3 separate regions of the Homo sapiens genome follow, and regions 2 and 3 are each reported to be linked to region 1. Evidence: microRNA targets listed by miRTarBase, many of them from high-throughput screens and not tested one by one. Region 1 holds a microRNA gene; each other region holds the end of a gene's coding sequence.
Evidence for each region. Region 1 holds the annotated microRNA hsa-miR-548az-5p (CAAAAGUGAUUGUGGUUUUUGC, at 2,186-2,207, shown strand). A microRNA usually pairs through its seed, bases 2 to 8, with sites in the 3' UTR of a target mRNA and lowers its output. Matches are read on the target gene's strand: a 7mer-m8 pairs with bases 2 to 8, a 7mer-A1 pairs with bases 2 to 7 and ends in A, and an 8mer does both.

Region 1 (4,150 bases):
CATCAGCACATGCTGTTTTTTGACTTTTTAATGATAGCTGTTCTGACTGGTGTGAGATGGTATCTCATGGTTTTGCTTTGTATTTCTCTCATGATTAGTGATGGTGAGCATTTTTTCATGTTTGTTGGCCACTTGTCTTCTATTGAGAAGTGTCTGTTCACGTTCTTTGTCTATTTTTAAATAGGGTTATTTGGTTTTTGCTTGTTGATTTGTTTAAATTCCTTATAGACTGGATATTAGACCTTTGTCAGATGCATGGCTTGGGAATATTATCTCCCATTCTATATGTTGTCTGTTTACTCAGTTGATGGTTTCTTTTTCTGTGGAGAGCTCTTCAGTTTAATTAGGTCCCACTTAACAATTTTTGTTTTTGCTGCAATTGCTTTTGGGGACTTGGCCATAAATTCTTTGCCAAGGCTGATGTCAAGAGGGTATTCCCTAGGTTTTCTTCTGGGATTTTTATAGTTTGAGGTCTTACATTAAAATCTTTAACCCATTTGTAGCTGATTTGTGTATATGATGAAAGGGTCCAGTTTCATTCTTCTGCATATGATTAGACAGTTATCCTAGCACCATTTATTGAATACGGAGTCCTTCCCCAATTTATTGTTTTTGTCAGCCTTAGAAGACTGCCTATATTTCTAATTGATTACTCCTAATGGGTTTCAACTTAGCCAGAAGGATATTTCCAAAAATCAGATCAATCTTATTATAACTCTAAACCTGGCATCTGACTTCTCTCAGTGTAGACCAAGTAACAACACCAGACATAAGGAAACAGTGTGTATTAGGTGATTCAACCATAACACCTCACTATCACTAATACAGCATAAGCAAAGACATCCCACTCCTCTACCATCTCCCCCTTCATACTACATAGACATCCACACATGCACACACGTACACACATTCACACCCCCCCACCCACAACATGCACACACCCCTTTACATCATCATCAATACAACAGGCACTGGGAAAAAGATAAAGAGAGGGAGAAAGCCAACAACACATCCAACCCTATCCATATCGACACATAAACCCTGTTCAATACGTATACTATACAGAAGCCCTGCACAAGCTTTTAAAAAAGGAAAGTTTTACTACCCCAAATTAAGACTATTTTTAATCAGAAGTAAATAAAAAGTTATTTGTCAAACTGAGATATCACTGTTTCTTGTTGCCCAGCAGGGAAGGAATTCAACAAAGCAAACCTGGCAACAGTTATTGAAAAAAAAAATAGAATTGTCTTACATTCACAAACCATTAACTTGAAACTTCTTCATCAAAACTTTTATTTGTGCAAAGGCCTAGAGGTAAGAATAATCATGATTTATTCAGAGAAAGAAAGAAAATTTCAGAATGTTTGGAGCAGAGAAAACAAGAGAGAAGGAAAAAAGATGGGATTGAGTGGCTAAATGAAGGCAGTTTATAAATAACCCCCAAAGTATTATTCTAAATGTAATGGGGGATGATATTTAATCAGGATAATGCTATGATCTGACTGGATTTTTGGAACCATCCCTCTGGCTCCAATAGAAACATTTTTGGAAGTAATGAATTCAAAATACGGAAGACCAGAAAGGAAGGTGTTTTGAGACTAAAGACAAAAGATGATTGCCTGAACTATGATAATAACAAAAGATGAAGGTAAGCAAAAAATAAAAGGAGAGCCATTTTATCAAATAGAAACACAAGGCTTGATAACTGATTACATATAAAAAGTAAATGAGAAAAGGGCAAGTCATGGAAAATTATTGGGTATTTGGCTTTTATAATTAGGTAGATGGTGGTAATTTCACTGATAAAAAGGACACTAAAGGGGGATATTTATAGGATTTTATGTGGTGATATCTACTAGGTGACTAACAAATTAGATCTGAAGCTCTGGAGAAATATCTTGGCTGAAGATATAGATTTGAGAATCATGATTGAAATTATATAATTGAATTTGTGAGTATGAAAAATATAATCCTCAAAGAGAGGCTACGTGAAGCAAAAAAATAAAAATTCTATCTAGGCTAGAATCTGGAAGAAAATTCATATACAAGAGATTAGCAGAAAGCAGGGAAATTCAAAACAAACTGGGAAAAAGCAGAGTAATTAGAGAAAGTTTAAAAAATGTAATAATAATAGGGAAAAATATTTCACAAAGTAGGGAATATTCAAGATTGTATTAGGTTGGTGCAAAAGTGATTGTGGTTTTTGCTGTTACTTTTAATGGCAAAAACTGCAATCACTTTTGCACCAACCTAATAAATTTGCTGCACAGAGATCAAGTCAGTTGAGGATCAGTTAAAGAAATTATTGGTGACTCTGGCAAGAGCACTTTCAGTGGTGTAGCATGGGACTGGTCTATCAAAACTGCCATCTTATAATCATTCATATAAAACAACTAACCAATAATAAGAATATGGAAGACAGACTCGGCCTGTGTGCTTTGGCAACTTTAAGTTCCTTTGGTACTGCATATGCTGATCAACAAAGTAAATGATATTGAAGGTGTTGAGAGTATGGATACTATGCAATAAGAAATTACCCACAACACAAATGTACCAGAATTTGATTTGACGTGGAAATTTTACAAAATTTGTTTTGGGATTCAAGCTTGCTCTTTGGAAGAATAGTGAAAGACTTACTTATCATCTCCGGAACTCTAAACTTGCTGATGATCAAGGATGAGACAACCAAAATTATTATCACCATAAAAATATTAGTTAGAAGGATTGCATATCATTCAAAGTGTAGTATTACTACCTAAACATTCACTTTCAAATATATTCAAAATTGACTTGGAGTAAAAATTAATATCCATATATGCTTTATATGTTGCAATTCTTCCCAGAAAATCTTATCTTAGGGTCCATTTCACCATCAATATTTACAATGGCAGAGCTCAAAACAGAATAGCTTGCTCCTCCTTTGATCTAAATTGAAAGTGAGAGTCTACTGTATTGGGATTACACAGGTTTAGTGTATTGACCTCCACTGAGAAGGCTGGGAAATCATTGTGTTGTACAGTAATGTCAAATTATACACTTTGACTTTGAGCATTTTTAATGACAAAATTAAAATAAAATGTGGAAATTTTAATATTTATTCTTTTTTCCCAGAAGTTCATGCCATGAAGTGATATTCATCTTCAACTTCAACTTAGGCTGAATATTGACTTTAACCCTTGGCTAGACATTCAGCTAAAATGTGTAATTTCGTGGACCCTACCCAACAGTGTTTCATGGGCTTTTTTAGAAGGGTCTGCAATGTAGCATGCTTGCACAACAGTAAGTAATCAAAAAGCAAGATTCTTGACAAGAAAGTTAATGTGTTTAATTAACATATTAAGCAATCTACAGTAGCCTGAAATGTGTTAATGAAAATCATCTGGGGGAAAAATAAAAGGAAGCCCAGAAAAAGTCCATATGCCTAGCTGATGTGCTAGTTAATTCTACTCAAGGAAGGTTTTCTGTGAAGATTAGTGTAGCAAGAAACAAATCCCTCTGAATTCATGACACGATGCATGCCAAAAGAATAAGGAATTTGGGATTATAAAAATGCCTTATGGTGTGGTTATAGGTACAGGAGAGAGAGCAAAGATAACTAACAACACAAGATTGAGAGAGGATAAATAAGGCAGAGCCCTAGGAGGGATTGGCCTTGGGTAAGAGAGGTCACTTCCTTTCTGGTAACTGATATGAAAGAGATAGGATATCCTTGGCTTTGATCTTTGTTCTGTTTTGCTTCCCTTTGAGGATTGAATTAATTTGAAGCTGAGCTTCTGTCTTTTTTGAGTTTGTCTGTTTCCAGTTTACCCACACAACTCTGGTGTAGCTTTGAAAGATTCAAATTCTAATTCCTATTCTTCTAGTCCCATGATTAAGCCAAAATCTCTGTTCAGCTCTTCAGCCTCTCTGCTGCTTTCAAATTTACAAATGCCCTGAAAGAAAAGCGATGCCTAATGTCATGCTCTCTGCCCTTTCTTTCTCCCTGGAATCTTGAATTCACAAATCTTGGCAGCCTCAGTAAGATCTCAGATATCTTCAAACGATTTGTTGTTTTCTTTTCTTTCCCCTTTATTCAGCTATTTTGGTTGTTCTCAGAGAGAGGTTTGATCCAATACAGCTAGTTGGTTATCTGTCTAACTGTATTTTTTTC
Region 2 (4,000 bases), not on the chromosome of region 1:
CACAAACTCCCGGAGGGCAGGGACGACGTTTTGTTCATCACTAGCTCCCCGGCACCTGGCACCATGCCTGGCACAACATGAGCACTCAATAAATATAATTTATTCACCAATTCACTCACTAAATTGGCCAGCACTCTACTCTGCCTCAGTTGTTTCTAAGCACTGCTCTGCTTCCTCCCTGCTCTCAGCAAAGTCAAGGGCGATGAGCACATGCTGTCTCTGGGCACCAGGTGATTAGTGGGCAGAGCTGCCGCAGCAGCATTGCTGAAATGGTCTCAGACGCTGCCTCTGACCTTGAGCCACCTTTCTTTGTGCTTGGCTAAGCACTGAGTCATTTACTTGTTTTTGCTGCCTTTCAAGCCTGGAGCAGTGGGTTTAGCACAAAGGAAGACATGATGGTTGTTTTGTTTACGGGAATCGATTTCCCTTGAATAATAATTCAATGGGTAGTCTGCACTGCATGGTGGCGTGGTGACAGGGCTGTGGAGGAACATGGCAGAAGGCTTCCAGAGTCAACACCAGGTCTCTCTGAGCCTTTGAAAAAATGTTTTTCTTATAAACACTGGCTGCAGCAGAAAAACTATATCCTGAAAGTCAGGAGACTGGTGAGTCCCAGTTGAGCCACAAGCTGGCCATGTAGCCCTGGGCAAGTCATTCGTGTTGTCACTTAACATGTGCTATCTCTGGGCATCTTTCCTCACCTTAAAAATGTGACGATGGCCTCAGTTCCCCTCCAGTGCCACTGTGGGTAAGTCGCTACTGCTGTAGGCGGCAGGGTTAGGGAGAGGCACCTATAAGCACAGGCTGCTTCCCGGACGATGACAGCCTCCTAGAGCATTTGTCCCTGGAGGAGGGCCCCGTACTATCCTGCAGGGGCATCTTGGTCAGGATCCCTCATGTTCTGGTGTCACTGTCTGGGAAGCTAAGACAGAGGTTTGGAGCACAGACTTTGGGGCTCTACAGATCTGGGTGCAGTTCCCTCCATTGGGTGCCGTTCCCTCCATTGGGTGCCTGACCAAGGGCAAGTCCTGGAATTGCTTTAAGCCTCTGTCTCCTCATCTGTACAATGGGAGCCTCCTTACCCAAAGGGGTCTCATGATGATTACAGGAGATAATATAGGGAAAGTGCTTAACGTAGCTTGATAAATGCTAGCTAGTATAATGAGAAATATTAATTATGGTTTAGATCCATTCATCATGAATGTCCCCCCAAAATAAGGACATTGTACAGACGCTGAAGATTTTTACAAAGCTTCTAGTTGTAGAGATGAGGAAACTGAGACATTGAGGGAGAGGAAGGACTGGCCCTAAGACCCACAGGCAGGAATATGGCCAGCAGCCAGGTGTCCCAACTCCTCTGTGGGCTGGATCCCGATGCTCCAATCCTCAGCTCCTACGAGGGCCCTGGCTGGGGCAGATTCCAACCTGCAACACCCTCAGCTGTGGGAATCCTGATGTCTGTGTCACCAGGGAGCCTCCCCCAAACACTGCCCATCTGGAACATAACTAGTACCCAGAGGGCTTCCAGTAGAGGGCTCTGTCCACAGCAGGCACTCAGTAGAGCCCCAGGCATGACTTGACCCAGTCACATCTTTGCTCTGGGCCTGTTTCCTAAAGTGGAACAAAATGGTCTTTAAGAACCTTCTAGTTTTTATATTCCATGGTTTCAAGAACTGGGTTCAATTAACCATGCAGTGGCTAGAAATCTCAGGTAACTGGAATCTTTCCCAGAAATTCCCTCCCTGGGAGAAATAGGCAGAGCTCAAGCAAGTAATAACCATCCACTGTCCTTTGCAGTTCTTCCTGGTTTAGCAGGTGTTTGGGATCATTTCATCCCCTTGGCTACTCCCCTACATTCCTGACCAGCAGACTGAGACTCAGAGCCACCTGAGGTTTTCCCAACCAGGACCAGAGCTCAGAATGCAGGTGAGAGTCAGCACTGAGAACAGTGTTGTGCACAGGGCACAGGTTCCACAACAACCCCCCCACAGGAAGCCCAAGCCAAGACACAAAAGTTTGGCCAAGAACGGAGCCCTGGATCAGGAGCCTGGAGGCCTGGGATAAAGCCTGCACTCTCCACGTCCCTGACTGGCTCAGCCGGGGGGCCTGTCAAATGAGGTGATTGGATAGCAGATCCCACTCCCTGATAGACTCTTACAGCTCCTAACCCTCCCAGAGCACCCAGCACGTGGGACTGGGTCTATAATCTCTGGGCCCTGCACCCCCAGAAGACACAGATAATGCCTTTGTTTATCCTTATGTCTTCCTAAGTCCAACCACAGACCAAAGCAGAATAGGCTTTCCAGAAATGTTTAAGGGGAGGAAGAAAAGAGGAAGGGAGGGAAGGAGAAAGGGGAGGAGGCAGGGAGAAAGGAAGGAGGGAGGGAGACAGGTTGCCAGGCAGGTAGGCTGAAGTCCTCCTCCCAGCACTAACATCCTATGATTCCACAAAGCTAAGTTCTAAGGCAGTTAGTTCACCAACAGTGTCTCTTAGACACCATCCCATTTATGGTGGAAACACCACAGGGAGAAGCAAAGGGAATTAATTTCAGATGTGAAATGATATGTGAACCCCTCTCTGCCTAAGCCCAGCTGACTGCCCCAAGCCCAGGCCCTGGGGTCTGCTGTGAGAAGTCCCGCCTTCACAGCGGAAGCCTCAGTGATGCTGGTGTCGGAGGCCACAACTCGTTTCTCTCTGCTAAGCTCACCACCTGACATGTCAGTGCTTTCCAGCCCAGAGCCTATGGTTCCGACTGAGGAACACGATACAGCAGGATTCTGCAGGATTCAGAGACATGAGAGGAAGAGGTCTTTATAAATAACTCCTGGTTTAAATGGAGCTGAAAATAGGAAGACAAAAGAGGAAGCCAATTGCTAAGCACTTATTGAGTCAATAACATTGGCTTGGAAGCCATAGTGCAAGTGGCTGGTTTGGTTTATTTCCTTCTCATCAAAAGAGCTAACGCAGGATTGAACCTGGGGGCACCAAGACCGCATGTGTGTCCGAGGATGTGTCTGAAAGGATGTGGTGCTTCTCAGATGATGATGTCTCGACTAAGACATAACCCAGGCCTTGGGTTAGATCTCTCGGTGTCACAGAAGAACCTGTCGGGTGGTGTGGCTTGGCTGTTAAGTCCCTGGACCTCTTGAGATCACTTTCTTCACTGGAAGGTCTAGTCACTGGGTTGGCTTCTAAGCTCTGAGATTTAGATAGCAATTCATAGCTAAGTCTTCGATATAAAACACAGGAACCAAAAGTGTGAATAAAATCTTGACTGTGCTCAAGTGTCCTGTGAAGTGTCCTGTCTCCACTCTCAATTCCATTCTCTGTAGGGTCTTCCTTCAGCTGCAACAAGGGCCTGCAGTTTGTGCTCTCTCTCGGATGACAAAATTGGGTGGAAATGTGCTTTATTCACTTGCCGTCCCCAGGGCCCCTGATCTTGGGGTGTGGCCCAGCAGCATGCTAGCCAGGGCAGGTGGACGCACTGGGCGGATGCACCGGTGGGGGCCAGGCCAGGAGGCTCAGCACAGAGCTGACTCTGCCCCGGTTCCTAACCCTGCCTCCCTACCCCAGGATCCAAGTACAGAGCTGAACAATGGAGGGAGAGACAGCCTGAACGCCAGGACCCCACGCTGCCCGGTTCGGGGCTCCCAGTTCCACCAGGAGGGACAGCAGGAGAGGGGGCGCCGCTTGCCGGGCAGCCTGGCTGGCAGCCATCAGCAGCAGCTGCAGGTGCCCGTGTGCACGCGGAGGATGCCTCGGCTGTGCAAGTGCAGGAAGTTGAAGATCTCAGAGGGCATGGCGTGGAAGCCGGGACGCGGCTTGACGTTGTCATAGTAGTGGTGAGTGATGTAGAGGCCCGAGGGGTTCATGGGGAAGGCCCAGAAGCCAAAGAGGTGCACCTCCTCACAGAGCTCCAGCGCCGCAGTGACCAGAATGAGGCCGGTGCTGATGCGCTTGGCGCGCACCCCCAGGCTGAGCCAGTAGCGCGACACGTTG
Region 3 (4,000 bases), not on the chromosome of region 1:
TATGGTGGAGAAAATGAACACGATGCCTGGACGTTAAGTGCTCAGTAAATAGTAGCACTGCCATTTTCCCAAGTGGAGTGATTTCTTTCTCCTCCAGCTTCCCAAGTTTAGAGCACATGTCCCAGTTCCTCAGTGCAGTGTCAGTCACATGGATTGCTCCAGAGCCCAGCAGGCCCTCCCACCTCATCCCTGTGCTGCCCCAACAGCCACCATGGCCACCGTAGCCTGAACGGCAGCCACTCTCCAGTCAACTCACCCTGCCTCCACTTTCTCTTCCTTAAAATGGTTTTGTTACTGACCACTGCAGCCCCCCACATTCAAAAGCCTTCAAAGAGCCTCCACTGCTTAGAATAAAAAAATGGGGAGGGGGCCTGCCTGGAGGGCCTGCCAAAGGCCATTAACTATGGCAGGTTCTCTGTGCACGTGGCAATCACAGGCTTACTAAGTGTTTAACAATTAAGTGCTTTATTGGGGTTTGGCTTGGAAGGTTCATCTGACTTCCAAAAGGACAAGCTCATGTCCTTTCTCCTCTCAAAGCTTCCCAGACCACAAAGCCCTCTGTGGTCACTCCTTTCACCAAAGCACTAAAGCACCCTGGTGAGTACAAGTATGTGGTCGAGAGCCTCACCCTCAGGTAAGTAAGCATTCTACAGCTCTCCTTCCCCTCACATGGGCACGTGATATGCTGGTCCCACCCCATCTTTTCTCCATCCCTAGCGCAAAGGCCAGTGTGGAGCACAATCTAGGTGCTTGTCAAATGTTAATTTAAGGGCCTCCTTCACGTCCTTCAAACCTCTCTCCACTGAGCCCAGTCAACCATAAGGCCCAAGTACAAAATCCTCAGGAAGGGACAAGCCTCATTTTCCATTCAAGACAAAAGGAATGGAGTCTGCTCCTTGGTGACAGCCCCAACTGCTTGTCAAACCACTCTGGCCTTATTAGGCCAATCTATTGGAAGTACTGCTGGGAGAGGCTGGCCCCACTGGGACAGACGCAGACTCCCGTGATGGCAGAGAATGCCGGGCCCGGGAATGCATACCCAGAGACACTTCCCCAGAAGCTCGTAGGTGCCACCGCTCCTCCTCTTCACTCCAAGCCAGATGCAAAGAATGGGGGAGTGAAAGTTACTTAACTGATCTCCCCCAACCATCTCATTTTATCCAGGAGAAAATGGGGGCCCAGGACTAAGTGCTTCTCCAAAGGTCAAGGTGAAATAGAAAAGCCAGAGCTTCTATTTCTGTGGTAAGATGCATCCCCTTCAGTTTCCTGTGACTTAAGCCTGTCACAAGGCAGGGGCTCAGGATCGCCCTCTGATAGGAAGTCAGGGCCACCATGGGATGGGTGGTAACTGATGAGGCATCCTTTCAGGCCTGTTGATCCTTCCCTTGCTTTCTCCTGAGGCCAGTTTCCCTCCCTAAATGTCTTAGATGAACAAAAGCTCACTGCCACTTGTAGGACACCTCGTATCATTATGCCAAGTTTCTACCCTCAGGCCCTCTTTATATTCCCATCTATTCAGAACTGGTATTTTAAAGATCCCAGAGCACCTGCTATGTGCCAGAGACAGGAGCCAAGATGAACTGTGCTGCACCACTGCACACAAGCCTCATCCTGTCCTCTTGGTTTAGATATTGCTCAGAACCTATTGTTGTATTCAACTATACTTGCACTTGCTCCTATTTGCCCTACATGGGCGTAACTCCTTAAACCAAGCTTTGTTCAGAATTCCTCTGATTGATCATTTAAGTAAATTTAAAAGTCAATTTAAGGAATATAAAAACTGCATAATTTCCAACTCAAGAGTATAAACTTAGATCACTCATTAGCCTCTGGTTGAAAACAGTAATCGTGATTTATACGGAATGCTAAATATCTATGTTCTAAGTGTGCTCTCTTGCCACAAACCCATTTAATCCTAACAATCTTAGGAGGTAAGTTGAGGTAGGCTGTTATTGTTCTCATGAATAAGTTTGGTAAAACCCCAATCTCAAGATACAGCCCAAGCAGCAGAGGCACATGCGTTAGCAACACATGGACCCCACCGCAGTATTAGCAATCATCTTTTGCTATAAGTGCTTGGCTTCCAAGAGCTTTTATACAGATGTCTGAGAGGCACAAAATATGTATAATTAGGCTATTTCTCAAATAGCACAGGAAAGCTGCCAAAGGCGTTCCCTGAATTGAGAGGCAAAGCACTGACAATGGGGACTATTACAGCCTCTGGATACAAGATGACGTATCTGCCAACCTTAACCACCCGAGTCAAATGCTACTTTAGAAATAATTAAGGTTCCCTTTAGTCATTTCACAGGAGTTGCTACAGCAGTACATAAAGTTTTATTAATATTCTGATTCTCGTGTCATAGCTTTTATGGCAGGAAAGGATGAGGACATGCCCCACCTGTAACGTAGAGCAAGCAAACCACCAAGTAGAATCTTGAGATTCTCTCTCAACTGTTCTCTAGAAACACGCTTGTGCTTTTAATCTGCCTTTTAAAAGGGACACAGAACAAAAAATGGTTGTTTGCAAATAAACATCTGAAAGAAAGTAACAGCTGACCTGGGCTGAGGCATCCAAACAAAGCAGTCATTGTGGAAGGAGACAATGCAAACCACACTGGGGCAAGAAACGGGGCAGAGAACGTGCGGTCATTTGTGCGTTGGGTATTTCTACCAGCCCCAAAGGCCCCATCTGGAACAAGTATCAACCAGGAGGGGCTCTATGGCTTGATTTATTAACCTAACTCAAAAGAAGTCACTGCCACCAACAGCACTGTGCAGTTTTATTAACCATTCAAGTCCAGTAGCATCTGGTAAGATTGGGACAGAATTGGGATTGAAAAGTGAACAGATATTCAGCATCTAACAGTTCAAAAGAAGCCACTACATACTCTTTTCACAAATATGTTTTCACAGAGCCAATACAGTACTAGCCATTAACCCAGTACACCAAGTGTACTGAAGTAGAAAAGATGCAACAAGAAAAATAGCTACATTAGAAAGACCAACACTTTAGAAAAAGAGTAAAACACTTTCAGTTTCTCCCCTTTAGCCCCTAAAACAACATCTTACAGTCTGGATCTGGATCTACCTATACAGTCCTACATTAGCTTCTAAAATATTTGTCAGGAGGGAAAAAATAAAATGACACTGGCCAGTACAGTCTTTGGATATTTAGGAAGGGGATGGGGAGAAAGTCAGTTCTCAGAACAAATTAGTCAGCTTCAGTCTCGTCAGCAGGGTCTTTGGATTCTTTGTTCTTCCGCACTTCTTCAATGTGCTTATCCTGTAAAGGAAGGGTAAGGTGTCATCAGTCAAAAAAAAAAAAAAAAAAAAAAGCCTGTCAAGTCACGACCCCCAGCCCCCACCTCAAAGAGGCCCAACACAACCTCAGTGCATATATTACAGCCTGTGGGAACCACACAATTTAAGTTCTGAGACATCATCATCAAATCTCCTGGGTCCCTTGTAGAACCTAACAAGCTGCCTACTGGACTTCCAAGGACTGTGCAATTATGCTGGGAATTACTGAATATTCCATCTTAAAATATACCTTTCATTTAATATGTTAAGCCCCAAAATGGATGACAAAAAGACACCAAACACCTTTTATCAAAGCACTTAGTTCAAGCCAACTCATTGGTGCATCAAACTCCAAGCTCAACCCTTTTACAAAGTAAGAAACCAACCTTCTCTCGCAAACGTTCCAGTTTGGCAGCCATTTGTGCCTCTCGGTTCTCTTTATTAGCTTCCATTTTGTGGGTCAGTTTCTCTTCTGCCATTTTACTGAAGTTGTTGTTCTCTTCTATTGCCTTCTGAAGCACTTCTTTCTCGTGCTCTCGTTTCTCAGCCAGCTGCTTCAAGACCTCAGCTTCATGGGACTGGAAAAAAAAGTTTAATAGGCTAGGCACTCTAAAATGTATTCAGGCTGGGTGTGGTGGCTCACGCCTGTAATCCCAGCACTTTGGGAGGCCAAGGTGGGTGGATCATTTGAGGTCAG

Region 2: the mRNA of ST8SIA5 is a reported target of hsa-miR-548az-5p. Seed matches in the 3' UTR shown: 7mer-m8 at 3,254-3,260.
Region 3: the mRNA of STMN1 is a reported target of hsa-miR-548az-5p. Seed matches in the 3' UTR shown: 7mer-m8 at 2,840-2,846.

Annotation. Positions count from the first base shown.
Region 1 is chr8:119,323,005-119,327,154 of GRCh38, forward strand. MIR548AZ (microRNA 548az) reads left to right here and starts at 2,167; the gene lies at 2,167-2,261.
Region 2 is chr18:46,676,325-46,680,324 of GRCh38, forward strand. ST8SIA5 (ST8 alpha-N-acetyl-neuraminide alpha-2,8-sialyltransferase 5) reads right to left here. Exons shown (of 7, transcript NM_013305.6): 7 at 1-4,000. The coding sequence ends at 3,718. Among named protein-coding and RNA genes, the nearest start is that of LOXHD1, 21 kb to the left of the region's middle. RefSeq lists enhancers at 1-483, 484-1,329.
Region 3 is chr1:25,897,802-25,901,801 of GRCh38, forward strand. STMN1 (stathmin 1) reads right to left here. Exons shown (of 5, transcript NM_005563.4): 4 at 3,690-3,881; 5 at 2,315-3,286. The coding sequence ends at 3,215. Among named protein-coding and RNA genes, the nearest start is that of STMN1, 6.6 kb to the right of the region's middle.